Homo sapiens: one gene and its partners. The protein of the gene in region 3 interacts with the protein of the main gene of each other region in a pairwise test. Each region holds a gene or a part of one and is shown on either strand. Other genes may lie near its edges.

Region 1 (7,028 bases), on a different chromosome or scaffold from region 3:
ACCTGGGAGGCGGAGGTTGCAGTGAGCTGAGATCACCACTGTACTCCAGCCTGGGCGACAGAACGAGACTCTGTCTCATAAATAAAATGTAGATGTCCGGCCCACCCCAGACCTTGACTAACCACTAAGGGTGAGACCCAGGAACATGCATGTCTAACACCCAGTGATTCTTACACATCAGTACAAGGCTGTCACCAAATTACCACACAACACAGAGATCACTTCAGTGGATCCTTTGTTCCATATTATTTTAACCAACCAAAGTATCTTGCCACAAAGAACCACAGTCAAGGCACAAAGGTAAGAGGAGGAGAGTCTGGACAAAGTCCTGTTGAGGTGGTAGGAGGAACTGAAATGCCCTCAGTAAACTGCAGATTCTTCTCTCAGTCATTTCTGTGAAGATTACCCGAATAGCAGATAATCCAAATTGGTTTAGTTTGGTTTGGCATGCATCACTTTTACCTTTTATGACAACATATGTACCCTATAAGTTGTTTATTTTGGCCTAACATGAAAATCATTTACATTCTCTGAAAAGGGAAATGGCAAAGGGTGAGGGATGGCAACAAACAAGCAAAAGCCTGGCTTAACACCAGTTCCAGGCCAGATGCACACAAGCCAAATGAAGTTGCCTATCTGGCCCTTCCCTATATACCACCCTCTTCCACCCTGTCCTTAGGGTGAGAAAGACTCCATAACCTTTTTTCCTTTCTGGCTTGGACACCTTGGCCAGGTAAGAAGGCTGACAATTTGGGAGTAGCTACTAAGTAACATTCTTTAAGGCCAGGGCTTTGTATACAAATACCCTTCTCTTTCCTCTAATACCTGACTCTCCTTTCCAAGTTCCCTTGGGAACACTGTGAAAGGATAGATGTGTCTTGCAGGATCTCTTCCACTTTGCCTCTGGAGAGGAGCAAGGTGACTGACTTATTGGTATAGAGGCAGGCAATAAGCCAACTCTGCTGAAGGCTGAGGCAGGGACCTGGGTTCTCCTCTGCTTTCTTTTCAGCCTCTCCTTCTCCCCACATTCCTACCTCTGGCCAATCTTACCCATAATCGCAACCTTACCCTTGGAATAGAAGACCAAAGAAACCTCCCTCCTCTTCATTAATCTCTAGGAATCTGTTCCTTTAGCCCACTTCCCTGACCCTTCTAGCCTTGTTGATGTCCAATCTCTGCCCTCAGAAAAACTCCTCAATATCTAGACCCATGAGAGCATCTGTCATTCATCTCTCATGAATTCAGAGGTACACAGACCCCTGTGATCTACCTCAAGAAGCAAGACTATCCTGGGTCAAAGAACCCCCTAAAAAGATGTGCAGGGGTTTCTGTTTCCTCCTCTGGTTTGAGCAAGTCAGACCCTCACAGATTTTTTGTTTCTGGAAAAGCCTCTCCTTCCTTCCTGACCCGTCCTTGTGCAACAGAAAACCTGATGGACTTCAGGGTAGACAATCCTCTGGGAACCAGCTCCCCACCCTGACAGTTAGGAGGAAGTCACAGCTGTGCTCTCTCATCCAGCCCAGTCCTACCTCCCCCTCCACACAAAACCATCCTAGAAACCAAGGTGTTTCTCCAAGATGATTCAGGACTGGACCCAGGTGGACACGAAGACGTTCCAGCAGGACACGGGAAGGAGGCCCGTAGCACTTGACCCTGCCTCACCCCAGTCATTCCCACATCCCAACCTGTCACTCCCAATCTGTTGGGGGCCTGATGGTAAGTGGTGCAGCATTCTTCCGTCCAGCCCGGATGCCTGGGTAGAAGAGGGGCCAAAGTTTCTCAGTAAAAGTATCAGTGAAGGTGTAGATATGAGAGCGGTCTGTGACATTGTAGAAAGACAGTGTGCCGGCCTCATAGTCTAGGAATATGCCTACCCGCTTGGGTTTCACCTTGATGTGCAAAGGGGTAAAAGGTGTGGTGGTGGCTGCATATTTGTCCCCATTCCATAGCCGCACCCGCCAGTAGCCAGTCTCAGGGAGTGGAGTCAACTCGCCCTTTCGGCTCACGGAGTCCCGGCATACACCCACTGCCCAGTGGGTCTTGTCGCCCACCTCCACCTCCCAGTAGTGTCGACCTGAGGTGAAACCCTCAGTAGCCAGGACGCAAGGGTAGAAGGTGAAACGCCTTGGTGTGTCAGGGAGATCCCGGAGTCTTGTCTCCACGAACTTGACGCTCTTACGATCCTCTGACAGGACTAGGTTAGGATGAGCTGTCTCAGGGTCCAGGGTCACATCCGCTGGCGGGAGAAGCCAGAGTGGGGAGCTAGATGAGGATGGGAATAGCTAAATGCCCCTGCCTCACTCTTCCAGCCTGCCTTTACAGAGCCTGGTCCCTTAAAGGTCCCCAGAACAACCTGGTTTGGTTAACTTTCTCAATCCATGGTGTCACCTAAGGAAGGGGAGAAAGCAATGGCTCACTTCTCACCCTGACCCTAAAGTAAACAGATAATAATCTCTTGAGTCTGCAGTGGCTGGTAATCTAGGTTCCCGCCTGGTCCTCTCTTCATCTCCCTCTGACATTATCATTTATCTCACTATGTAGAGAAGTACAAGGTGTAGTCTGAGGGGCAGAAAAAAACGGAAAGTGTTAAGAAGGATGCCGAGCAAGACAGCATATGGTCTAGGGATAGGGTGACCATGTGTGTTTTCCAGGAACTGGCCTGGTTTATGACTATTTTCCCTGCATATTCACATTAATATAATGACACTCCCTTTCAGTTTCTTTCTTTTTTTTTTTTTTTGAGATGGAATCTCACTCTGTCCCTCAGGCTGGAGTGCAGTGGTGTGATCTCAGCTCACTGCAACCTCCGCTTCCCAGGTTCAAGCAGTTCTCCTGCCTCAGCCTCCAGAGGAGCTGGGATTACAGGCGCCCAACACCACATCTGGCTAATTTTTATATTTTTAGTAGAGATGGGGTTTCACCGTGTTGGCCAGGCTGATGTCGAACTCCTGACCTCAAGTGATCCACCAGCCTTGGCCTCCCAAAGTGCTAGGATTACAGATGTGAGCCACCGCACCCGGCCTTTGAAGGTTATGCAAGTTTACATGGTAAATTATATAACCACTCTACCCGATGACTTTGGCAAATTATTTAACCTTTCTGGGTCTCTATTTAGAAAAGAATGGACCTAAGAGTAGATAACGCTTAAGGCTTCCTCTCACTCCAAGTTCTGTGACTCAGGGTGAGACTAAAAGCCAGATAAAGGGGTAGGTGTGTGTGGGAGTAAGAAAAGTGAGACATAGGATAACTGAAACCCATATAAGGTAGGACCTAAAAACTTTCTTCTCTCTAGTGGTTTCTTCTAGTTTCCTTTTGGGAACAACTCACCAATTAGCTGTTTAAGGATTTTCCTTAGGGCAAAGTACTGTCGGGGAAAATTGCTGAAGTTCTTTTCCAGCTCTATGGATACTGAAGTCACCTCCATGGTCTTCACCTTTTCACATCTAGGAGGGATAGGGAGATAGGGGAAGAAAGGGCAGGGTTAGGGAGAAGCTCCAGCCAAGTGACTATTCAGATGTTAACATTTTTAGGGAGAAATTAAAATTCTCCATCTTCCCACTTTCTTCCTCCTCCCTGAAAAGCTCACCTGTTGATTTCTTTTACTAATCCAAGGAGAGCCTTATGATCCCGTGGACAGATCGTTGAGAGTGAGCCTCCGAACTTTCTAGGAATATTCCTGTATTTCATGCAAATGGATGATTGCCCTCCCTGCTCTCCCAACCCCTTCCTCCTGCCATCTTGTTTGGACACAATTCCACCCACTGGCACAAGTAGAATCTGATTCTACCTTATCATTCTCCTTCTCAAGAAGTCCTGATGTTCAAAGGGGAAAAGGGATTATTATTCCCAATAATTTGTTCTCTAACTGGCTTCATGGGCACAATGAACATTCTCCCATACCCTGCCCAGACACACTACATGACTTTCCCAACCTCACCCCCAACCCAAACTCCTGACTGTACCCCTCCTCTCTAAGCCAAGACCTAACTCACTCAGAGAGATACAACAATCACTTACTTTTCCAGGGTACTTTTGACATCCTAGAAGGAAGGAGAAAAGAAAGCAATATTGGTCCTGGTATTCAGTGGTCCTGAAGGCAAAAGGTTCCCCCTCCTCCCCAAAGTTCCACAGCTATAAAATAGGGATAGGATAAACTGAGGGTCACACAGTGCAAGAAGAGCTCCAGCGGGACCTGAATGCACTTCTCCCAACCTAATCCCTACTTTCAACTTCTGGTCATCATGAAGCTTGGTCATTTATATCACTTCCCAATGATTTCTTTTATGCTTGTCTTTGCTCCTCAAGGATGCTGGGAGCTCCCTATAAGGGACAGGGATTGTATCAATTCTTTACTCTGTCCCCCAAGTACCAACCACATATCTCACTCTCCTTGAGGATAAGTACAGAGAGTTCCAGACTGGTGGCATAGGAACAAATCACACATTCCTGTTACGGTTTGGTATCCCCTGTCTTGCATTAGTTAATAAACATCAATAACTGGCTGGGCACAGTAGCTCACGCCTGTAATCTGAGCGCTTTGGGAGGCCAAGACGGGTGGATCACTTGAGGTCAGGAGTTCAAGACCAGCCTAGCCAACATGGTGAAACCCTGTCTTTACTAAAAATACAAAAATTAGCCAGGTGTGGTGGTGTGCGCCTGTAACCCCAGCTACTCAGGAGGCTGAGGCAGGAGAATCGCTTGAACACAGGAGGCAAAGGTTGCAGTGAGCCGAGATCATGCACTGCACTCCAGCCTGGGCGACAGAGCAAGACTCTCTCAGAAAAAAAAAAAAGGAAGAATAAACACATTAATAACTGTGTGCTAATACTGATTTGTGAATACTTGGGGTCCAGAAGACAAAGAAGACAAATCTCTGTCCCACAAGGATTTCCCAGTTTAATATGGAAGGCAGAACACACATACATGAAAGGCCATAGGAACAAATACCAAGCAATACGTAACATAAAAATAAATGTACAATGAAGCCTCACTGCTTCAAATGCTGGTAATCTAATCTCTAAGATAAAAAATATGTTCCCTAGTTTTGCTAACACCATTCATTTACGTAAGAGAACAAAATATTTCAAACACTTTAGAGGTATTATTAATATATACATATCAAAAGCAATATATTATTTAAACAATTTCAGGCATACCTCATTTTATTGCACCTCGCTTTATTGTGTTTTGTTGACATTGTATGTTTTTCAGATAGATGGTTTGTGGCAACCTGTGTTGAGCAAGTCTACTGGCACCATGTTTTCCAACAGCATGTGTTCACTTCATGTCTCTGTGTCACATTTTGGTAATTCTCACAATATTTCACACTTTTTCATTATTATATCTAGTATGATCTGTGATCAGTGATCTTTGATGTTACTATTGTAATCGTTATGGGGGCACTGTGAACTGCATCCATATAAGACGAACAACTTAATCGATAAATATATTTTATGTGTTCTAACTGATCCACTACCAGCTATTCCCTCATCTTTCTCCATCTCCTCTGGCCTCCCTATTCCGAGACACAACGATATTAAAATTATATCAATTAATAATCCTGCAATGGCCTCTAAGTGTTCATGTGAAAGAAGAATCACATGTCTCTCACTTTAAATCAAAACCTAAAAATGTTTAAGCTTAGTGAGAAAGGCACATTGAAAGCCAAGATGGGCTGAAAGCTAGGCCTCTTGTGCCAAACACCAAGCCAGGCTGTGAATGCTAAGGAAAAGTTATTGAAGAAAATTAAAAGTGCTACTCCAGTGAACACATGAATGATAAGAAAGTGAAACAGCTTTATTGCTGAGATGGAGAAAATTTTAGTGATCTGGATATAAGATCACATGATTCCCTTAAGCCAAAGCCCAATCCAGAGCAAGGCTGTTAACTCCTTCAGTTCTATGAAAGCTGAGAGAGGTAAGGAAGCTGCAGAAGAAAAGTTTAAAGTTAGGTAGGTTGTTTTAAGAAAAGAAGCCATCTCTGTAACAAAAATGTGCAAGGAGAAGCAGCAAGTGCTGATGCAGAAGTTGCAGCAAGTTATCCAGAAGATCTTGCCAAGATTACTGATGAAGGTGGCTACACTAAACAACACATTTTCAATGTCAACAAACAGCCTTCTATTGAAGAAGGTGCTATCCAGGGCTTTCACAGTTCGAGAGAAGTCAATGCCTGGCTTTAAAGCTTCAAAGGACAGGATGACTTTCTTATTAGAAGCAAGGGCAGCTGGTGACTTTAAGTTGAAACCAGTGCTCACTTACCATTTCAAAAATCCTAGGGCTCTTAAGAATTATGCTAAATCTACTTTCCTTGTGCTCTAGAAATGGAATAACAAAGCCTACATGACAGTACACCTGTATACAGCATGGTATACTGAATGTTTTTAATTAAAAAAAATTACCTTTTGTAGAGATGGGGTCCTGCTATATTGCCCAGACTGGTCTTGAATTCCTGGCCTTAAGCAGTCCTCCTGGCTTGATCTCTCAGAGTGCTGGGATTACAGATGTGAGCCAACGTGCCTAGCCTTTACTGAAGTTTTTTTTGGGGGGATGGAGTTTCACTCTTGTCACCCAGGCAGGAGTGCAACTGCATGATCTTGGCTCACTGCAACCTCTGCCTCTCGGGTTCAAGCGATTCTCCTCCCTCAGCCTCCCGAGTAGCTGGGATTACAGGCGCCCACCACCATGCCCAGCTAATTTTTTTGTATTTTTAGTAGAGATTGGGCTTCACCATGTTGGCCAGGCTGGTCTCAAACTCCTGACCTCAGGTGATCCACCTGCCTTGGCCTCCCAAAGTGATAGGATTACAGGTGTAAGCCACCGTGCCCAACCCTTTACTGAAAATTTTAAGTTGAGACCTACTGCTCAGAAAAAAAGATTCCTTTCAAAATATTACTGCTCACTGACAATGCACTTGATCACCCAAAAGTTCTGATAGAGATGTAAAATGAGATTCATGTTGTTTTCACGTCCGCTAACACAACATCCAATCGGCAGCCCATGGATCAAGAAGTAATTTGGACTTTCAAGTCT
Region 2 (6,075 bases), on a different chromosome or scaffold from region 3:
TAAAAATTTAAATATTAGCTGGGTATGGTGGCAGACACTTGTTGTCTCAGCTACTCAGGAGGCTGAGGCAGGAGGATCACTTGAGCCTGAGAGGTCAAGGCTGCAGTAAGCTACAATTGTGCCACTGCTCTCCAGCCTGGGTGACAGAGCAAGATCCTGTCTCTGAAACTAGACTCGAGGCTGGGCACGGTGGCTCACGCCTGTAATCCCAGCACTTTGGGAGGCTGAGACAAGTAAATAATTTGAGGTCAGGAGTTCAAGACCAGCCTGGCCAACACAGCGAAACCCCATCTCTACTAAAAATACAAAAATTAGCTGGGTATGGGGCACATGCCTATAATCCCAGCTACTCGGGAGGCTGAGGCAGGAGAATCACTTGAATCCGGGAGGTGTAGGTTTCAGTGAGCCTACATCGTGCCACTGCACTCCAGCCTAGGTGACAGAGAGAGACTCCATCTCAGGAAAAAAAAAAAAAAAAAAAGACTCGAGCATAAAGCAGTATGTATAGCAACTAATATGTGCAAATCATTTAAAGAGAAAGAAATAATGTCAAATTTATTATCCTTGATAGTAGTTGAAAGTTCACAGTAATATGGAAAAGGTATACATGGGACTATTTCTGCCCTCGGAAGCGTCTGCGCAGATAGCATGGTTAGCAAGTGGCAGGAACCATGGGGATTTCAGTGTGTCCCTGGCTGCCAAGGCCTGGGGGCCGAAGTTTACAAATACACCCTTGGCTGAGGGGAAAGGGACTGGGGTCCTGTTCCCTATCATTACATGTTCCAGGGACACACAGGCCTGAAGACCTTCCTAAACAGTGACGATATCACCTCAGGCGGGACCCAGCAGAAGCCCGCGAGTCCCCGGTGCCCCGCCGGGATGGGCCTGTGGGCCGGCAGGACTCCGGGCGGCCCTACAGCTTGGTGGGCTGCTCGGGGCTGAGGGGGCCAGGCCCGCTGGGCGGGGGCAGCACCATGGGCAGCGAGTTGCTGCCCCTCTCGTGCCAGCAGGTGTCCAGGATGGGGTAGAGCTTGCCCTGGAAGTCGGCCTGGAAGGTGTAGAGCGGCCGCAGGTCATCGGGGCGGTCGGCATCGAAGAAGGTGAGTTCGCCCTGCTCATAGTGCAGGTAGAGCCCGATGCGGTGGGGGTGGCCGGCCACGGGCAGGGGTACCCGGGGGCAGGCAAAGGCTTCGTACACCCGGCCCTCCTTCAGGCCGATCAGCCACACGCCGTGCTCGGGGGACCTGTTCAGCTTGCCCTTACGGCTGGCTGTGCCCTTGATGACCCCCAGGCGCCAGTCGCTCTTGCTGCCCACCACCACCTCCCAGTAGTGGCGGCCGCAGGAGAAGCCGCGGCTGGCCAGGACGCAGGTGCTGTAGTCGAAGCGCTCAGGCTGGCTGGCTCGCCGCTGGGCCAGAAGCCCGCACTGCACCACCGTGTTGCCCTTGGAGAGCTCCAGGAGTGGGTGGGCAGTGGCAGGGTCCAACTTGAGAGGCTCCGGGGCTGGGAGGGAGATCACAGAGGGTCTGTGAGGCCACGTGGAGGGCAGCAGACCCGGCCCACAGAAGCTGATGGAGGCCCTGAACTCCCCAAGGAGAGGGGCTGTGTCTTCCTCATCTCTCTAGCCCCAGGGTCTAGAAGGGGCCAGTACAGGGCTGCTCCCTGAATGAATGAATGAATGAATGAATGAATGAATGAATGAAGTTTTACATAAGGAAGATCAATCACAGACTGATTGCATCCACCCAAGGCAAAAACAGTGTTTATATAAAAGGGAGCAGCTTGGTGGGCTGTGGGGGGCTGAGGTGGCTGGAGAAAGAAATGGACACTGGGCTCGGGGTTCTGGCCTGCCTGCCTGACACAGAGGTGTTGTGGGAAGGACCCGGAAGACACCTGTCCTGTGAGCCTATAGCTCAGCCCTCAGGGATTTCTGGAGAACCCATAACAACTGCAGCTGTTGGATTTGCTAGCCTAGTCAGCCTATTCAAGGACGAACTAGCCCACCTGAGCTTTTTGCTAGTTACCAGCTGATCCGTTTACCCCAGAAATGTGAGATGTGCTCCCCCCTGCCCGCCTCCCACCCCTTCCCGCCACCCAAGTTGCCGCAAGGAAAGAAGGCCAAGGGGAAGAAGGTGGCTCCGGCCCCTGCTGGCGTGAAGAAGCAGGAGGCCAAGAAAGTGGTTTATCCCGTTTGAGAAAAGGCCTAAGACTTTTGGCACTGGACAGGACTTCCAGGCCAAAACGGACCTCGCCCACTTTGTGCAATGGTCCTGCTCGGTCAGGGTGCAGTGGCGGACAGCCATCCTCTATAAGTAGCAGAAACTGTCTCCTGCTATTAACCAGTTCACCCAGGCCCTGGACCGCCAAACAGCTATTCAGCTGCTTAAGCTGGCCCAGAAGTACAGACCAGGGGCAAAGCAAGAGAAGAAGCAGAGACTGTTGGCCCTGACTGAGAAGAAAGCTGCCAGCAAAGGGGATGTCCCCACTAAGAGGCCACCTGTCCTTGGAGCAGGAATTAACACCGTCACCACCTTGATGGAGAACAAGAACGCTCAGCTGGGCCAGGCACAGTGGCTCATGCCTGTCATCTCAGCACTTTGGGAGGCTGAGACAGGCAGATCACTTGAGGCCAGGAGTTTGCAAGCAGCCTGGCCAACATAATGAAAAACCCCGTCTCTACTAAAATACAAAAATTAGCCGGGCGTGGTGGCACACGCCTATAGTCCCAACTACTCAGGAGGCTGAGGCAGAAGAATCACTTGTACCCAGGAGCCAGAGGTTGCAGTGAGCTGAGATCACACCACTGCACTCCAGCCTGGGTGACAGAGACTCTGTCTCAAAAAAAAAAAAAAAAAAAGGAAGGCTCAGCTGGTGGTGACTCCACGCAACATGGGTCCCATCAAGCTGGCTGTCTTCCTGCCTGTGCCTGTGTGTAAAGTGGGGTCCCTGACTGCATCATCAAGGGGAAGGCAAGACTGGGATGTCTAGTCCCCAGGAAGACCTGCACCACTGTCGCCTTCACACAGGTTAACTTGGAAGACAAAGGAGCTTGGGCTAAGCTGGTGGAAGCTACCAGGACCAATTACAACAACAAATGTGATGAGATCCGCCATCACTGGGGAGGCAGTGTCCTGGGTCCCAAGTCTGTGGCTCACATTGCCAAGCTCAAAAAGGCAAAGACTAAAGAAACTACCACTAAACTGGGTAAAACGTACACTGTTGAGTTTTCTGTACATGAAAATAATACAAATTTTCCTTCAAAAAAAAAAAAAGAAATGTGAGATGTACAAACAGGATTCACAGTTCACAAACTGCAATTTTTTTCCTTCTTATCTTTCCTTTTTTTTTTTTTTCATTCTTTTCTTTTTTACTGATGAGGTCTCCTCTGTCACCCAGGCTGGAGTGCAGTGGTGCAATCATAGCTCACTGCAGCCTCCCAACTCCTGGGCTCAAGCAATCCTCCTGCCTCAGCCTCCTCAGTAGCTGGGCCCACAGGCACATAACACCACACCCCACTAATTATTTTTTGTAGAGATGGCGTCTCACTATGTTACCCAGGCTGGTTTTGAACTCCTGGCCTCAAGCAGTCCTCCCACCTTGGCCTCCCAAGGTGCTGGGATTGCAGGCGTGAGCCGCCGTGCCCAGCCCCTTCTTTTATATAAACCCTATTTTTGCTTTTGGTGGATGAAATCGCTCTGTTAGCAGTCTCCCTTATGTACAAGACAGCATGCTAGTAATAAAGGAATGAAATGTGTTTGAGTTGTTTTTGACAGAGAACAAGAATAGGTTGGTTCAAAAGTAATTGCGGTTTTTGCCATTACTTTGAAGACCACTTGTCCTTTGAGTAGGAAGGACATTTTTAAAAGGATATTACTTTTTTTTTTTTTTTTGAGACGGAGTTTTGCTCTTGTTGCCCAGGCTGGAGTGCAATGGCACGATATCAACTCACTGCAACCTCCACCTCCCTGGTTCAAGTGATTCTCCTGCTTCAGGCTCCTGAGTAGCTGGGATTACAGGCGCACACTACCACGCCCAGCTAATTCTTGTATTATTAGTAGAGACGGGGTTTCACCATGTTGGCCAAGCTGGACTTGAACTCCTGACCTCAGAAGATCCGCCCTCCTCAGCCTCCCAAAATGCTGGGATTACAGGCATGAGCCACTGTGCCCAGACAAAAAGTACATTACTTTTAAAAGTAATGGCAAAAACTGCAATTACTTTTGCACCAACCTAATACCATTTATGAAGCACTAAGCTGCAACACACGTATGTCTATATACAAGCTCTGCAGCCTGGCCGGGTGGGTGCAAATAGCCCCACTTTACAGATGAGGAACCTGGGCTCAGAAATGACACAACTTGCCCAGCCAGCAGCTAGGAAAGGAAAGAGTAAGCAGGAACCCAAGCTGTTCGGAAACTCAGTCCCATGCTCTCACTAGGACCCTCCACAAACCTCCATCTGAGTTCTCTGTAGCTTATTATCTCTCTGATACAATCGATGAACTGCCACCTGCCCTGGGCGGCAGCCCTCAGGAAGGAGGACGGGTCAGGGCCTCACCTGGCAAAACTTTCCGGAAGAGCCTTTTCCACACGGTCAGCTTGATGTCAGCCTGGTGGAGGCCTGGCTTGAAGGAGATGGGGCTGAATGCGCCTTCTAAGGGCCGGGCCTGCGGCATCTCTGCTCTGCAGGTGACAGTTCACAGTACAAGAGAGTGAGGTATCACGTGGCCCACCCCACCCCTCCATCCTATCTATGTTTGCCCAGCCAGATCCACAGTGCAGGACTGCAGTCACAATGCCCATCAATGCCCATCATCCCCTCCCCTGCACAGCCCCTTCAGGGAGGACCCATCTCCTTCCTAGAAGGGGAAACGCTCTATAGTGGTGCTTCTAGAGTGCAGGTTTGGGGACCAGCAGTGTTGGTTGGAAAATGGTCCAACCCATTCCCAGTAGAAAGTCAATGGTCCACCTGGGAAATGGTCAGAAATGCAGGTTCTTAGACCCCACACCAGACCTGCCAATCAGAAACCAATTATGGGGGCCAAGTAATGTGTCTTTTTTTTTTGAGTCAGAGTTTCACTCTGTCACCCAGGCTGGAGTGCAGTGGCATGATTTCGACTCAGTGCAGCCTCAACCCCCTGGGCTCAAGTGATCCTCCCACCTCAGCCTACCTAGCAGCTGGGACTATAAGCATGTGCCACCATGCCCAGCTAATTTTTTTCTATTTTTGGTAGAGACAGTTTCACCATGTTGCCCAGGCTGGTCTTGAGCTCCTGAGCTCAAGCAATCCACCCACCTTGGCCTCCCAAAGTGCTGGGATTACAGCTATGAGCCACCATGCCAAGACTTTTTTTTTTTTTTTTTTTTTTGAGATGGAGTCTTGCTCTGTCGCCCAGGCTGGAGTGCAGTGGGGTGATCTTAGCTCGGTGAAACCTCTACCTCCCAGGTTCAAGTGATTCTCATGCCTCAGCCTCCCCAGCAGCTGTGATTACAGGTGCCTGCCACCACACCCAGCTAATTTTTGTATTTTTCATAGAGACGGGGTTTCACCATGTTGGCTGGGCTGGTCTCGAACTCCTGACCTGAAGGCATCCTTCTGCCTCAGCCTTCCAAAATGCTGGGATTACAGGTGTAAGCCGCCATGCCCAGCCTCTGTCCCTTCATTTAAACCCATGTCTTCTGACCAAATTGTCTCTAAGACTAAAAGAAATGTGAGAAACACGGAGTCTCCCATAAACAGGGAGTGAGGAAGGCTTGGGAACTGCACGTGTTCGTTTGTTGGGTCTAGAACATGGATCCACTCTCTTCCCACAATCTGCAGAGCAAGTTTCAGGCAGGGCTGATACTGCCTGCTGCGCAAGGGTGAGGAGGGTAAGCAAGGGATGCCCGGTGCTCCTGGATGTTGCTTCTGGCCATTTCCCACCTCTCCCAGCTCCGACTCCTGGTGATATCCTGCCTTACACCCAGCCACCCTGAACTCATAACCAGAGTCCACATGCCACTCCCCCTTTTACAGGACCGTTTCCTCGGCTTGCCTGGCAAACTCAGGTCCTGGGTCCTTCTCAGCCATCAGGCC
Region 3 (6,811 bases):
CATTCCCCTAGGAAGCATGAGGAACCGGTTCCTTTTCCTTTCTGGTTCCCTTGCTGGGAAGCTGACACAAACCTCTGACACACGATCTAAATCTGTCAGAGATTTTGCTTTAACATCACGATGGCTACAGCGTCTCCAGGGCCGGAAGTTAGCCCCTCTTGCTGCAGGAGCAGACCACCTTCCTGAGGTGCTGTCTTCGCCTTGCAAGCACTTTCACATCTGTCTTCCTGCTTAATCCTCCCAGCAACTGATGGAGGAGGCAGGGCAGGCAGCATGGCTCTGCTTTAAAGAAAAGCAAAGAGTGGCTTTTCCTGAGGACTCATGAGGACACCAGGGGAGCTGGGATCAGGGCCCAGAAGACTGGCAGTTCCAGGCTCACTCTGCTGGAGATTGCATGCCCAGAGCAGCTGGGGAGGCCAGGCATCCACCTGTTCCCATACCAGAACAGCTCCAGGGGCCCCACAGAGCTGCAGGAGAATTCAGTCAAATGCCAGGCAAGCGAGAAGGAGCAAAAGGCTTTATTGATAAATATGCAGATATGTCTGTCCACAGGGACCTGCTGTGGAGGCCATGACCAGGCTGCAGACCTCCCACTGCCTGGGTTACAGCCAGGACATGGCCCTGTGCAGACCCTGCCACGACAGCCCAGCTGTCCACCACCCGCCTCATCTCTGCCAATTGTGCTGGGGGCAGGGAGAGGCAGAGGCCCGCCTCAGGCTTCCCAAGCCCTGGGGCTCACGGGTGGTTCCCTCCCTTCCAAGGGAGTGGCACTGTGCCCAGGGGAGAGCCAGGGGATGGGGGCAGAGGAGGGAGACAGCAGCTGCTTCAGACCCTGAGCAGAAAACCAGAGTGAGCACAGCTGGCAGCACCAGATGACAGATCTGGGCTCCAGGGGCCTCCTGGTTGGCCCTTGTGGCTCGAACCTGCTTCGGGAGACAGGCAGGGTGAGGGCCCTGTTCGCCTTTTCTCTGACAAGGTTGCAAGGCCCGTGTGTGGCTGCCTGCTCCCTGGGTACCGGGAACTGGTGGCGCGTAGTGCCCTGAAAGGCAGGGTCCCTTCACGGCTCACCCACCAGCCACACCGAGGGGAGGGCCCCTGAAGAAAATGACAGCACTGGAAGGCAGCAGCAGGGTGGGGGCCTAGTGCTCCAGGCGGGGCCTCTTCCCAGGGGTCCGTGGGCCCATCAGTCCTGGGGTGGTGGGGGCTGGTTGATGATGACCTGGATGACAAAATCTTTCTGGATCTTGGTCTCCTGGAGCCGTGTGCGGTCTGTGAGCAGCTTCCCGGAGAAGAACCACCGCTGCCACGATGGCTCGATGCCCTCCTGGGCGTGCAGCTGCCTCTTGAGCTGCCCCACTGTGTCGGGCAGGCTGGCGCTGAGCCTCACGTCCTTGCCCGTGGACAGGCGCACCTTCAGCGGGAACTCACGGCGCACGCTGGGTGGAGGCTCGGGGGGCTCCAGGCTCTCCTCCTCCGTGTGCTCCAGCAGCAGGTTCACCGGCGGTGACAGGCAGTAGATGGGCAGCTGGTAGCGATTGCCCAGCTCATCGTAGCATTCACAGAGGGTGCCTGTAGGAGAGGCAGGGCTGTCAGAGTCAGCTTGGGGATCCACTATCATGGATTAAATGTTTGGGTCCCCCCAAATTCATATGGTGAAACTCTAACCCCCAATGTGACTGTATTTGGACATGGGGCCTATACAGAAATAAATAAAGTTAAATGAGGTCATAGCGTGGGGCCCTGACCTTCTGACCCCTTGATGGGAAAAATGGTCCTTTTTTTTTTTTTCTTTTGAGACAAGATCTCCCTATGTTGCCTAGGCTAGTCTCGAACTCCTGGGCTCATGCAATCCTCCCACCTCAGCCTCCCGAGCAGCTGAGACTACAGGTGTGCTCCACTGCCCTGGCTTACAGTTCTTGTAGAGACACTAGAGCACTATCTCACTCTCCACTCGCTCCCCATGTGAGGACACAGCAAGAAGACGGACACCTGCAAGCCAGCAACAGAGTCCTCACCAAAACCTGAACCAGCCAGCACCATGATGCCGGATTTCCCAGCCTCCAGAACTGTGGAAAATAAATGTCTCTTGATTAAGTCACCCAGCATGTGGTATTTTGTTACAGGAGCCTGAGCAGACTAATACACCTGCCATGGCCACCCCACAGTCAGATCTCCCTAGGACAGCCTGATGACCAGGTGTACAGGGCTGGAGTCAGGAAGACCTGAGCTGGCATCCCAGCTCCACCAGGTACTGGCTTGTTCATCCTGGCATATTATTTTTCACTTCTTCACATGTGCCAGGTGCTGGGGTTACAGGGATGAATGAAATAGCACAGCTCTGCTCTCCATGGGCCTTAGTGTCCTTACTGGCAAAACGTAATGCATGGAGAAATATGTTTATTGTCTCTTGAGCACCTACTAAGTGCTGGGACTGGACTAAATGATGTTATGTGTATCTTACTGAATCCTAATAATCATCTCCCCTTTACAGTCGTAAGGCAGTCAGGCTCTAAATTCGAGAAGCTCCTTGCTAAAGCCAAGACAGTTAGGAAAGGGAAACATTCAGACTGAAACCCAGGTCTGTGGCCAGGCGCAGTGGCTCACGCCTGTAATCCCAGCACTTCGGGAGGCCAAGGCGGGCGGATCACCTGCAGTTGGAAGTTTGAGACCAGCCTGACCAACATGGAGAAACCCTGTCTCTACTAAAAATACAAAATTAGCTGGGCGTGATGGCGCATGCCTGTAATCCCAGCTACTCAGGAGGCTGAGACAGGAGAATCACTTGAACCCAGGCGGCGCAGGTTGCGGTGAGCCGAGATCGCTCCACTGCATTCCAGCCTGGGCAACAAGAGGGAAACTCCGTCTCAAAAAAAAAGAAACTCAAGTCTGTGATTCTAGGGCTCCACTGTCACCCTCTGCTTTACATGGCCCCATAAGACTGCTATGAACTTACGTGAGCTAATGCAGTGGAAGTTTCTAGTTCGGTGTCCAGCACATAACAACCCAATAAAAGGTCAGTGCCTTTGGGAGGCTGAGGCCAGTGGATCACTGGAGCTTAGGAGTTTGAGACCAGCCTGGCCAACATGGTGAAACCCCGTCTCTACTAAAAATACGAAAATTAGCCAGGCATGGTGGCACATGCCTGTAATCCCAGCTACTCAGGAGGCTGAGGCAGGAGAATTGCTTGAACTCAGGAGGTGAAGGATGCAGTGAACCGAGATCCCACCACTGAGCCTCAGCCTAGCCAACAGAGCAAGTAAGACTCCATCTCAAAAAAAAAAATAAAATAAAAAGGTCAGTGCCTTGGATGTTCTGGGGTCCCAAAGTGCATTTGTGACACTGCTTTGCAGGTTTGTTGTCTTTCTGTCATGTCATTAGGCAAGCATAGACTGTGTCTCTTTTTCTTTGTGTACCCACTCCTGGTCCATGCTCAGTAAGGGGTGCTTGAATGAATGAATACGTGAGTAACCACCTGCCCCACCGCTCCACACTCCTCAACACCCTCAAACTGTGCTGGTGACCCCCTAGCTCCAGCGGGGATAAAGCCCTGGCCCTGCCCACTTACCATGAGGCAGGGTGATGCTGGCTCCATCCAGGATGGCCTGGGCCAGCTCGTGGTCGTTGGCTTCAGCAGCATAGGCGGCAGCCTTGAGGGCATCCCAGATCTCCTTGCGGCCCTCGAAGGCAGGCGCTGTGTCCCAGAACTCATCCCGTTTGCTCCGCAGCTGCCCGTCAGTCATGGGGTAGTCGCTCTTCCACTTAAGCCGCTCTTTCTTCAGGGGCTCATTGCGTCCTGGGCAGGACAGAAGGAGAGGCTCAGCATCTCTAAAGCCACTTGAGCTGCAACCTGCCCTCCCCCTCCCCTCCCCTCCCCAGGCCAGACCCTGAAACCCTGCTGCACTGGCTACTAAGTATTCAGGTCTTTGAAGCCCTTCCTAAATAGCAGGGAAGAGTCAGAAAACTTCACATAACCAACCTAGGGACATAAAATAATTGTGTCAGCAAAGCATACGCTACCATTGTTTTTGTTTTTTGTTTTTTGTTTTTGAGATGGAGTTTCACTCTTGTTGCCCAGGCTGGAGTGCAATGGCATGACCTCGGCTCACTGCAACCTCCGCCTCCCGGGTTCAAGCGACTCTCCTGCCTCAGCCTCCCGAGTAGCTGGGATTACAGGCGCCCACCACCACGCCTGATTAATTTTTGTATTTTTAGTAGAGATGGGGTTTCACCATGTTAGTCAGGCTGGTCTCAAACTCCTGACCTCGTGATCCACCCGCCTCAGCCTCCCGAAGTACTGGGATTACAGGCGTGAGCCACCGCACCCTTCCCACATGATGTGGGGCAGGGCGCGGTGGCTCACGCCTGTAATCCCAGCACTTTGGGAGGCAGTAGGATTGCTTGAGCCCGGCAGTTCTAGACCACCCAGGGCAACATGGTAAAACCCTGTTTCTACAAAAAAATTTTAAAAATTAGCCAGGCATGATGGCACGCTCCTCTAGTTCCAGCTACTTGGGAGGCTGAGATGGGAGAATCACTTGAGCCTGGGAGGTTGAGGCTGCAGTGAGCTGTGGTCATGCCACTGCACTCCATCCTGGGCAACACAGCGAAACCATGTCTCAAAAAAAAAATTATTAACAATTTTAACATCTTGTTACTAATGTCCCACTTAAAAAAAGGATTTTTTAAGCAATCATGACCAACAAACTCCCCCAAAAATTCCTGCAGCATCTGACAAAGAAAACAATTCTGTCAAATGTCATTTTTCTTGTTACCCAGCTCCAAGTGACCTCCAAGACAACTCCAAACCACAGCCAAGACTGAGGGCAGAGGTATCTCTCAAAGGCTTTTGGAGGCTCAGTCATCTCAAAACTAAAGGCAGAGTGAGCCACAGGAGTGAGATGTGAAGCACTCTGCTTCCACTATAACTCAGGTCCTACAGTGAGTGGAAGAACTGAGGCTGGGGGCCACCACCAGGCTGCTCCCACTGGCTGGGGCAAAAGGAAGCAAGGAAGAGAATTGCAGGCAGCGATCTCCGCTGAGAAAGAACCCCAGGCAAGCCTTTATTTATATACATGATCCCATTTCATTCTTGCAGTAGCCTTAGGCAGTAGGTATTATTATTGCTATTTCACAGGTGATATGACAGATTTAGAGAGATTAAATGACTTGCCCCAGGTCACATAGTAAGTGAGTGAGGGTTCCACCTCAGGTCTGACTAAATCCTGTAGTTCACCATCTGAATTCACAGTTACCTGTAGGGGCAGAAAACTCTAAAGCCAAATATTTAATTTAAAGTGTTCCTGGGGTGGTGAGGTGGCAGAAGGAAAGGCAAACCCTCTTTGGAGGAAAACAACTTCAAACCAGGCCTCAAAGAATTCCCAAGATAAAGTTCCAAGAAAAATAAATAAGGTAATAGTTTTAAAAAAAAAAAAAAAAATCTCAATATGCAAGGAAACAAGGCAGTACGAGCTTTACTGGCAAAAACAGCAGACAAAAGAATCAGATTTGCAAAGACTTTGGATAGATTATGAAATACTGAGTTAAGGGATGAGGGCCTTAAAAATATGAATAAGAGATTATAAAGAATGACCAAGGAGATTTTTTAAAAATGTTTAATTTTTGTGGGTACATAGTAGGTATAACCAAGAAGATCTTAAAAGAACCATATAGAACTTCTAAAAATTAAAAATACAGGCCAGGCCTAGTGGCTCACACCTGTAGTCCCAGCACTTTGGGAGGTCAAGGCAGATGGATCACTTGAGCCCAGGAATTCGAGATCAGCCTGGGCAATATGGCAAAAACCTGTCTCTACAAAAAATACAAAAAATTAGTCGGGCATGGTGGCATGCAGCTGTAGTCCCAGTTATTTAGGAGGCTGAGGTGGGAGGATCACCTGAGCCCAGAAAGGTTGAGGCTGCAGTGAGCCATGATCATGCCACTGCACTCCAAATCCAGCCTGGGTGACAAAGTGAGACCCTGTCTCAAAAAAATAAAAAGAAAATAAAAATAAAGAAAAATACAATATAATTGAGATTCGGATGTCTTTTTTCTGTTTGAGAGACAAGGTCACTCTGTCGCCCAGTCTGGAGTGCGGTGGTGTGATCATAGCTCACTGCAGCCTCAAACTCCTGGGCTCAAGGTATTCTCCCCCAGCAGCCTCCCAAGCAGCTGGGACTATATAGGTGACACTATGCCCTGCTAGGTCTAAAATTTTGAACTGAATTTCCAGAAGTATACAATAGGGAAAATGGGAAGGAAGCAACATTCAAAGAAATCATGGAGATGTCCACTCCCCCTAAACTGATCTATAAATGTAATACAATTCCAATATAATTCCTGTCAGTTTTTTCCCAAGGAACCTGGCAAACTGATTCTAAATTTTATATAGAAGAACAAAGATGTTCCTAGAAAAGAATCAGGTGGGAGAAGTTGTGCTGCCATGATCAGCATTAATTATAAAGCTACAGTTGGCACAGTACTGGAACAGGGACAGACTGTTGGACAAAAAAAGCCAAACCCCGTAAAATATTTGAAGAGATTTATTCTGAGCCAAATGTGAGGGCCATGACTTGTGATGCAGTCTCAAGAGGTTCTGAGAACATGTGCCCAAGGTAGTTGGATTACAGCTTGGTTTTATATGTTTTAGGGAGATTTAAGACATCAATCATTACATGTGAGATATACATTGGTTTGTGTGGAAAGGAGCGACAACTTGAAGGGGCGGGGACTTAAAGGTCATAGGTGGATTTAAAGATGTTCTGGTTGGCAATTGGTTGAAAGAGTTATTATCTTAAGTCCTCGAATCAACAGA
Region 4 (7,339 bases), on a different chromosome or scaffold from region 3:
CACTCCTTAACATCCAGCTCAATGGCCATCTCCCCAGTGCTGGAACTGGAAAGGCTTTTGCTCACTTTGATCCCTGTCCCTTATATGCCTTCATTCATTTCTACTTTTCAGGTCCAGGTAAGTCACCTGCTCTGAATTCACACTTCCCTACGAAGAGTTGACTCCCTCCTCAGGGATCCCACAAGATATCCACGCACTCTATGTCACAATTCCTTGTTTCCATTTCTGTCCCACATATTCGCCCCATCCATGTCTTCACCTTTACGTTCCTAGTGCCTTGGATAGGATATGAAGCAAGTTACATTCCCACTGGTTAACTAAACACACTTCCGCTGCTGAAAAGCAGGGGCTTGGCCCAGAGGATGGCCGAAAGTTTTTCTCTTCAGAACTGAGTGTTCTGTCAGCTCATCTCCATAGCACCTTCCAGAAATAATTCTCCCTCAGTTAAAGGCTTACCAAGAGCCTTTAACTACAAGCAGTTCAACCCCATTTGATGACACTCAATGAAGAACATCCATTCCAAAAAAATTTGTTTATGATTCTTTTATTAACACACACAGGAGGGGCTTTGGTCATGTGAACAAAAAATTTATTTCTTAAAAAAGGCTTTTTAGGTCTTTGTTTTTCAAGGCAAATTAACACTTATTATACTTTTGACTTTGACCTCCAATCTGACAGGTCTACTACCCTGATGAACTGGAAGAGACTTTCCAGGCCCTGATAATGTCTTTTCCTTTCTCCGGCCTCTTAAAGCTCTCTGTAGACTGTCTCTTCCATGCCATTCTCTGATGCCCCTATAATGTGTGAGGGTATTACAATAGTCCCTATTCAAACTGCCTTGTCATAAAAGGTCAGCTATGTTGTCTAAATCAACTCACCTGACAGGTTACACAATATATATCAGACAATGTGCCACAAAACATAGCTCTCCTCTTTCGTCTCACAGAGGAACTAAAGTTCCAAAATATATACAAAACCATCTTCCATCTCCAACTGTCTTCTCTTTCTTCCCAGTTTTATGCAAAGCAGTCTCATTAATACATTCTTCACCAGGCTCAACCAAGTAGCGTAGTGTCTTCCATTGCACCTCTAAAGTTGGAAGATTCTGATCCCACGTCTTGACGTGTTCCAAAAAACAATCAGGTCACAAAGGTAACAGCAAAATACGAGGCCATGCCCAACATTTCAAAAACACAGCGAAGTAACAAGAATAAACGTGACCACAAAAACAACTTAATTAAGCCCCATTTCTCTTCTGAGAGTATTTCTTTGACAAAAGTTATATTTCCAAAACCAAACACATTTGATAATCTAAATCCATATCGAGGTCATCAATCACTGACCATAAGGGAGACTGTTACATCGGGGTAAAAAACATACAAAAACAAAACAGAGAAAATGACAAGCTGTTTCAGTTTCCTCAAGGTGTCAGTTCATCCTTACCAGTTGACTACAGTCCTCAGCTGTGAACCTAAAGCACAATTGGGAGAAATTTACCATGAAGACATTGACTCTCAAAGTTCCATATCCTGATGTTAAAAATAAATGTGAACCACCCAGAAGAATGCCACTTCTTTGAGACACGGTCCTCTGACATACCTGTCTCATAGAACAATCTGGAAATTTCAGGTAATGGCCTCTGGCTTTACTCTTTATTTCTCCTTCCCTGCGTTCTCAGCCTGCGTTCCACTGTGCTCTATGGCCTAGGTCTTCTTTGGCTTTCCCCAAACTCCCTTAGTGCCTAGACAGGTCTACTTCTGGCGACTGCCCTATTAGAATTGACTTTTATGTTTCACAAAAACAAAACCGAAGTTACTGTTATCTTTCTCTAATTAACAGCGTGGGAGGGAGAGGCCACAAAAAAACGGTATACTAACGCCTAACAAAACCAGCACGCATTCTTTCCTCTTGACCCCAACTTTGTTCCCAATGCTCAATTTTTGATGCAATAAAATGGGGGATGCAGGCCTAGAACATAACTTTTTACAGGGCGCGGTTTAACCATGCTTAGGGCGACTACTGAGTTTCATCCAAGCTCCAGCTAGTTTCCGACCTTACCACCGATCTCCTCCTTCAAGAAGACTCGCTTCTCTCTATTCGCCAGACGAGCTCGACCAGCATCTCTGCCATCTTCGCAATCTCCTTGGCTTTCTCCTCAGCCTTCTCGCACAACTCCGACACTCTCTCGTCGGCTTCGCCACTCGGGTGCTGCACGTGATTGAGGGCGCTCTCCTCCGAGGCCTCCACCTGCGTTTTGATCTGGATAAGCATATTGTCCATCTCCCACAGCTTGCTCCTGGTCCGCAGGTACGCCCGCCCGTGCTCGCGTATAAGAGACGCGATGTCCTCGCGCATCTCGTTGATGACCGGGAGCAGGAACTGCTCGAAATCCTCCTCGGGCTCCAGCACCTCCACTTCCTCAGGCGCTTCCACCTCGTCTATGTCCAGGGGCCGCATCTCCTCCTGCCGCTTCCTCAGTACCGCAGTAGGGGCGTTCTTCTCACCGGAACCCTCCAAGAACTGGAGATCAGCAGTTACTGCTGGAGGCTGAGCGACCCACACGCTTTGTCAATTGTACTCCCGAATTATCTTTATTTTTTTTTCTTCCTTTTAATTGTAAGCCTTTCGCTTCACAACTCTGCGGGAAGAATCGCCGTGGATGCACACAAATAAGCGGCCTACAAAATGGAGTCGCAGCCGTCAACTCGCCCTCGGCCTTTTTGCGGCCCTTTCACGACAGAGCCGGGCCCCTTTACGGTCACGCCTTCGGCAAGACCAGGTAGCGGGCGCGTGCACGTAAAGGGGCCTCGGGCGCGCGCACGTCCATCACCAGCTGCTTCCCGGCGCCCCTCCTCGCCCTCTAATTTAGATCGGTGGCGGCAGGTTTGTTCGCGTCTTCATCTAAAGCTTCCCTTCAGCGGGCTTTTACTTTTATTATTTTTTAAAAGTAAAAGTGACCCTCCCTTCCCTATATTTGAATAAGACTGGCTGGCGTTCACAGCGCTTACTATCTAAGCATGCACAAGCTTGAATTAACTTATATGAATTCATTTAGCCCTCACAACGAACCTAGAGGTAAAAACCGTGCTAAAAGTCGTGATTTGAGCCCAGAGCAATGTGGGTCCACAGTCCCTGCTCACTGTTTTAGAATGGAACACGTCCTTCTGTCCTCCCCACCCCTGGCTCATACTTTTGTCCTGGGGGGAAATTCTCTCGCTGCCTTGGGTGATTCTGGCCGGTGGTTTTTGGTCTCTCTTCGCCAGTCTGTAAGGTCCTCAAGGTAAAGGGCTACTTCTGTTTCAGTTCTGTCCTCCGCCCCTCCTGTCAGCCTGGCGTCAAGCAGGGTCTTAGGGGATGCTTTAGAGAGAGGAATTCTTCTCTAGTACATAAGTGCTTCTACCAGACTGGAGGCTGTTTGGGGACAGGTTCTGGTCTTGATCACCTTTATGTCCCTCCACACACAGGACCTGAAAATCAGCAGGGACCTAGTAAATGTGGCTTTGATGGTCAGTACATTTTGATCACTAACCTAATGCCATTGTGGAATGGAGGAAGTCTGTTGCTAGGCTTAGCCACCCAGTGCCACACTAGTAGTAATATGAGTGTGTGTAGAGGGGGCATCCTTCTTAACACAAGTGCCACAGATCAGAGCTTCAGTTTTCCAGTCTGATAAAGACCAATGGCCCCAGCCTGAATATCTGTCAGTGGGAAGAGGGATTTGTAAGATGACATGCGTGAAACAGTTTTGCAAACACCAACATTCTAGCAGATGTTCATCAAAAAAACATGAAGAGGGAAAGAGCAAGACACCGTGAAAAAAGATATTTTCAATAGTTATACTGACAAAGGACTCATATGCAGAATATATTGAGAACTCCTACAGATCAAGAAGGAAAAGACAAAATTTTTAAATGGGCAAAAGACGTAGGCTGGTACTTAACAAAAGAGAATATTCAAATGGCTAATAAGTATATGAAAAGGTGTTCAACGTCATGATTCAACAGGGAAATGCAGATGAAAACCACAATGAGGAAGCACTGTACATCCACTAGAATGACTAAAATTTCAAATACAATACCAAGTGTTGGGGAAGATGTGGAACAACTGGAACTCTTATACATTCTTGATGGATGTCTTAGTCTACTCTGGACACCATAACAAAATACTATAGACTGGTTGGCTTAAAAACAGACATTTATCTTCTCACAGTTCTGGAGGCCAGAAGTCCACGATTAAGGTGTCAGCAAATTTGGTTTCTGGAGGTGAGGGCTCTCTTCCTCAATTGCAGATGACCACCTTCCTGCTGCAGTCCTCACATGATCTCTTCTTTGTGCATGCAGTGTTGGGGGGTACAGGAAAGAGTGCTCTCTTGTGTCTCTTCTTATAAGAACATGAAGCTATAGGATCATGCCCCCACTTTTATGACCTTATTTAACCTTACTTACTGCTTTACTCCAAGTACAGCCACACTGGGGGTTAGGGCTTCAACATAAAAAAATATTGGGGGACACATATATTCAGCACATAATAATGGGAATGTAAGTTGTTACAATAATTTTGGAAAACTATTTGGCAGTATCAACCAAGATTAAACATATACCAATCCTATGTTCTAGCAAACTGACACCTTGTTATACACTCAAGAGAGTTTGAGTGCAATTGTTTATAAAAATACATATACGAGAATATTCACAGCAACTTTATTATAATAGCCCCAAAGTTAACCCAAATGTTCATCAGCAGGAGAATAAATAAATAAAATGAATAAATAGTAGCATATTCCTTCAGTGGTTTATTATTGCATAACCAGTTAACCCAAAATTTGGCAGCTTTAAAACATTTATTATCTGTCATAGTGCATTTAGGCTGCTCTAACAAAATGCCATAAGGTGGGCAGCTTACAAAAGAAATTTATTTCTCACAGTTCTGGGGGATGGGAAGTCCAAGATCAAAGTGCTAGTAGATTCTGTCTGGTGAGGGCTAGTATTTTGGTTCATAAACCGTTCCTTCTTGCTGTGTCCTCACAGGATGGAAGGAGCAAGGGGTCTCTCTTATGCATCCTTTTTTTTTTTTCTTTTGGAGATTGAGTTTCACTCTTGTCGCCCAGGCTGGAGTGCAGTGACACAATCTCTGCTCACTGAAACCTCTGCCTCCCGGGTTCAAGCGATTCTCCTGCCTCAGCCTCCTGAGTAGCTGGGATTACAGGTGCCTGTCATCACGCCTGGCTAATTTTTGTATTATTAGTAGAGATGGGGTTTCACTATGTTGGCCAAGCTGGTCTTGAACTCCTGACCTCAGGTGATCTACCCGCCACAGCCTCCCAAAGTGCTGGGATTACAGGCATGAGCCACCGTGCCCGGCCCTCTTATACATCTTTTGTGTATTTACTTGTAGACAAAGTCTTGCTCTTTTGCACAGGCTAAAGTGCAGTGGAATGAGCATAGCTCACTGTTTCAAACTCCTGAGCTCAAGTGATCCTCCAGCCTCCACCTCCTGAGTAGCTGGGGCTACAGGCACATGGCACCACACCCAGCTTTAAAAAAAATTTTTTTTAGAGACGGGGGTCTTGCTATGTTGCCCAGGCTGGTCTCAAACTCTTAGCCTCAAACAATTCTCCTGCCTCTTCCTCCCAAAGTGTTGGGATTACAGGCATGAGCCACTGCAGCTGGCCTTATATCCTTTATAAGGGTACTAGTCACATTCATGAGGGCTCTGACCCCATGACCAGATCACTTCCCAAAGGCCCCATCTCCTGATATCATCACTGTGTTAGGCTGTTCTCACATTGCTATAAAGGAATATCTGAGACCGGGTAATTTGTGAAGAAAAAAGGCTTAATTGGCTAAGGGTTCTGCAGGCTCTACAGGAAGCAGGGTGCTGGCATCTGCTTGGTTTGTGGGGAGGCCTCAGGAAACTTACAATCATGGCGGAAAGCAAAAGGAGAGCAGGCATGTCACATGACCAAAGCAGGAGCAAGAGGTGACAGGAGGTGCCACACACTTTAAATGACTAGATCTCACGAGAACTCACTCATCACAGGAACAGCACAAACGGGATGGCGCTAAACCATTCATGAGAAATCTGTCCCCATGACCCAGTCACCTCCCACCAGGCTCCAGCTCCAACACTGGAGATTACATTTCAACATGAGATTTGGGCAGGACATCCAAACCCTATCAATCACCTTCTGGGGTAGAATTTAAATATATGAATTTGGATGTGAGGACACAAATATTCAGACCATAGCATTATCTTATGTCATTTCAGTTTAGTATCTTACATGAGGTTGCAGTCAACCTATCAGCTGGGGCTGCAGTCATTTCTGAGTTTGAATGAGGATGGAGCATCCCCTTCCAGGATGACTTACTCATGTAGTTGTTGGAAAGAGGCTGTTTTTCCCTAGCTGTTGGTCTCAGTTCTTTGCTATATGGGCTTCTCCATGGAGCTGCTCACAACAAGGCAGCTGGTTTCCCCAGAGCAAGTGGTTTGTGAACCCCCAATATCTGAGACAGGTCTCAGTTCATTTAGAAAGTTTATTTTGCCGAGGTTGAGGATGTGTGCCCGTGACACAGCCTCAGGAGGTCCTGATGACATGTGTCCAAGGTGGTCAGAGCACAGCTTGGTTTTATACATTTTAGGGAGACATGAGACATCGATCAACATATCTAAGATGAACGATGGATTGGTCCGGAAAGGTGAGACAACTCAAAGCAAAGGCAGGACAACTTGAAGCGGGGAGGGGGCTTCCAGGTCTTGGGTAGATGAGAGAAAAATGGTTGCATTCTATTGAGTTTCTTTTTTTCTTTCTTTCTTTTAAAATTTTATTTATTTATTTATTTATTTATTTTGAGATGGAGTCTCACCCTGTCGCCCAGGCTGGAGAGCAGTGGCGTGATCTCGGCTCACTGCAACCTGCGCCTCCCAGGTCCAAGCAATTCTTCTGCCTCAGTCTCCCAAGTAGCTGGGATTACAGGTGTGTACGACCACAACCGGCTAATTTTTGTATTTTTAAAAGAGGGTTTCACCATGTTGGCCAGGCTGGTCTTGTACTCGTGATCTCAAATGATCCACCCACCTCAGCCTCCCAAAGTGCTGGGATTACAGGCGTAAGCCACCGCGCCCAGACATTTTGAGTCTCTGATTAGCCTCTCCAAAGGTGGCAATCAGATACGCATTTATCTCAGTGAGCGGAGAAGTGACTGTGAATAGAATGTGAGGCAGGTTTGCCCTAAGCAGTTTCCAACTTGACTTTTCTTTTAGCTTAGTAATTGTAGGACCCCAAGATTTATCTTCCTTTCGCAGGTTGGAAGGAAAGAGATGCCACACTACCTTTCATGAA

What was found.
Region 1: the proteins of UBTD1 (region 3) and TRIM39 interact in binary tests that used the Homo sapiens proteins (3 or more experiments, as listed by UniProt).
Region 2: the proteins of UBTD1 (region 3) and TRIM50 interact in binary tests that used the Homo sapiens proteins (3 or more experiments, as listed by UniProt).
Region 4: the proteins of UBTD1 (region 3) and MRFAP1L1 interact in binary tests that used the Homo sapiens proteins (3 or more experiments, as listed by UniProt).

What each region holds. Positions count from the first base shown.
Region 1 is NC_000006.12:30,336,920-30,343,947, reverse strand, and holds the end of TRIM39 (E3 ubiquitin-protein ligase TRIM39), read right to left. Parts: intron 4,041-7,028; coding exon 4,018-4,040; intron 3,677-4,017; coding exon of another isoform or gene 3,587-3,676; intron 3,444-3,586; coding exon 3,328-3,443; intron 2,237-3,327; coding exon 1,689-2,236; 3' UTR 219-1,688; downstream 1-218. Other genes in the region: TRIM39-RPP21 protein, read right to left, coding at 2,052-2,236, 3,328-3,443, 4,018-4,040.
Region 2 is NC_000007.14:73,312,008-73,318,082, forward strand, and holds the end of TRIM50 (E3 ubiquitin-protein ligase TRIM50), read right to left. Parts: intron 4,683-6,075; coding exon 4,558-4,682; intron 1,663-4,557; coding exon of another isoform or gene 1,622-1,662; exon of another isoform or gene 1,504-1,621; coding exon 914-1,503; 3' UTR 529-913; downstream 1-528. UniProt on the Homo sapiens protein: E3 ubiquitin-protein ligase that ubiquitinates Beclin-1/BECN1 in a 'Lys-63'-dependent manner enhancing its binding to ULK1. In turn, promotes starvation-induced autophagy activation.
Region 3 is NC_000010.11:97,564,896-97,571,706, reverse strand, and holds the end of UBTD1 (ubiquitin domain-containing protein 1), read right to left. Parts: intron 3,794-6,811; coding exon 3,566-3,793; intron 1,570-3,565; coding exon 1,184-1,569; 3' UTR 501-1,183; downstream 1-500. UniProt on the Homo sapiens protein: May be involved in the regulation of cellular senescence through a positive feedback loop with TP53. Is a TP53 downstream target gene that increases the stability of TP53 protein by promoting the ubiquitination and degradation of MDM2.
Region 4 is NC_000004.12:6,707,173-6,714,511, forward strand, and holds MRFAP1L1 (MORF4 family-associated protein 1-like 1), read right to left. Parts: upstream 2,694-7,339; 5' UTR 2,458-2,693; coding exon 2,074-2,457; 3' UTR 2,059-2,073; intron 1,472-2,058; 3' UTR 529-1,471; downstream 1-528.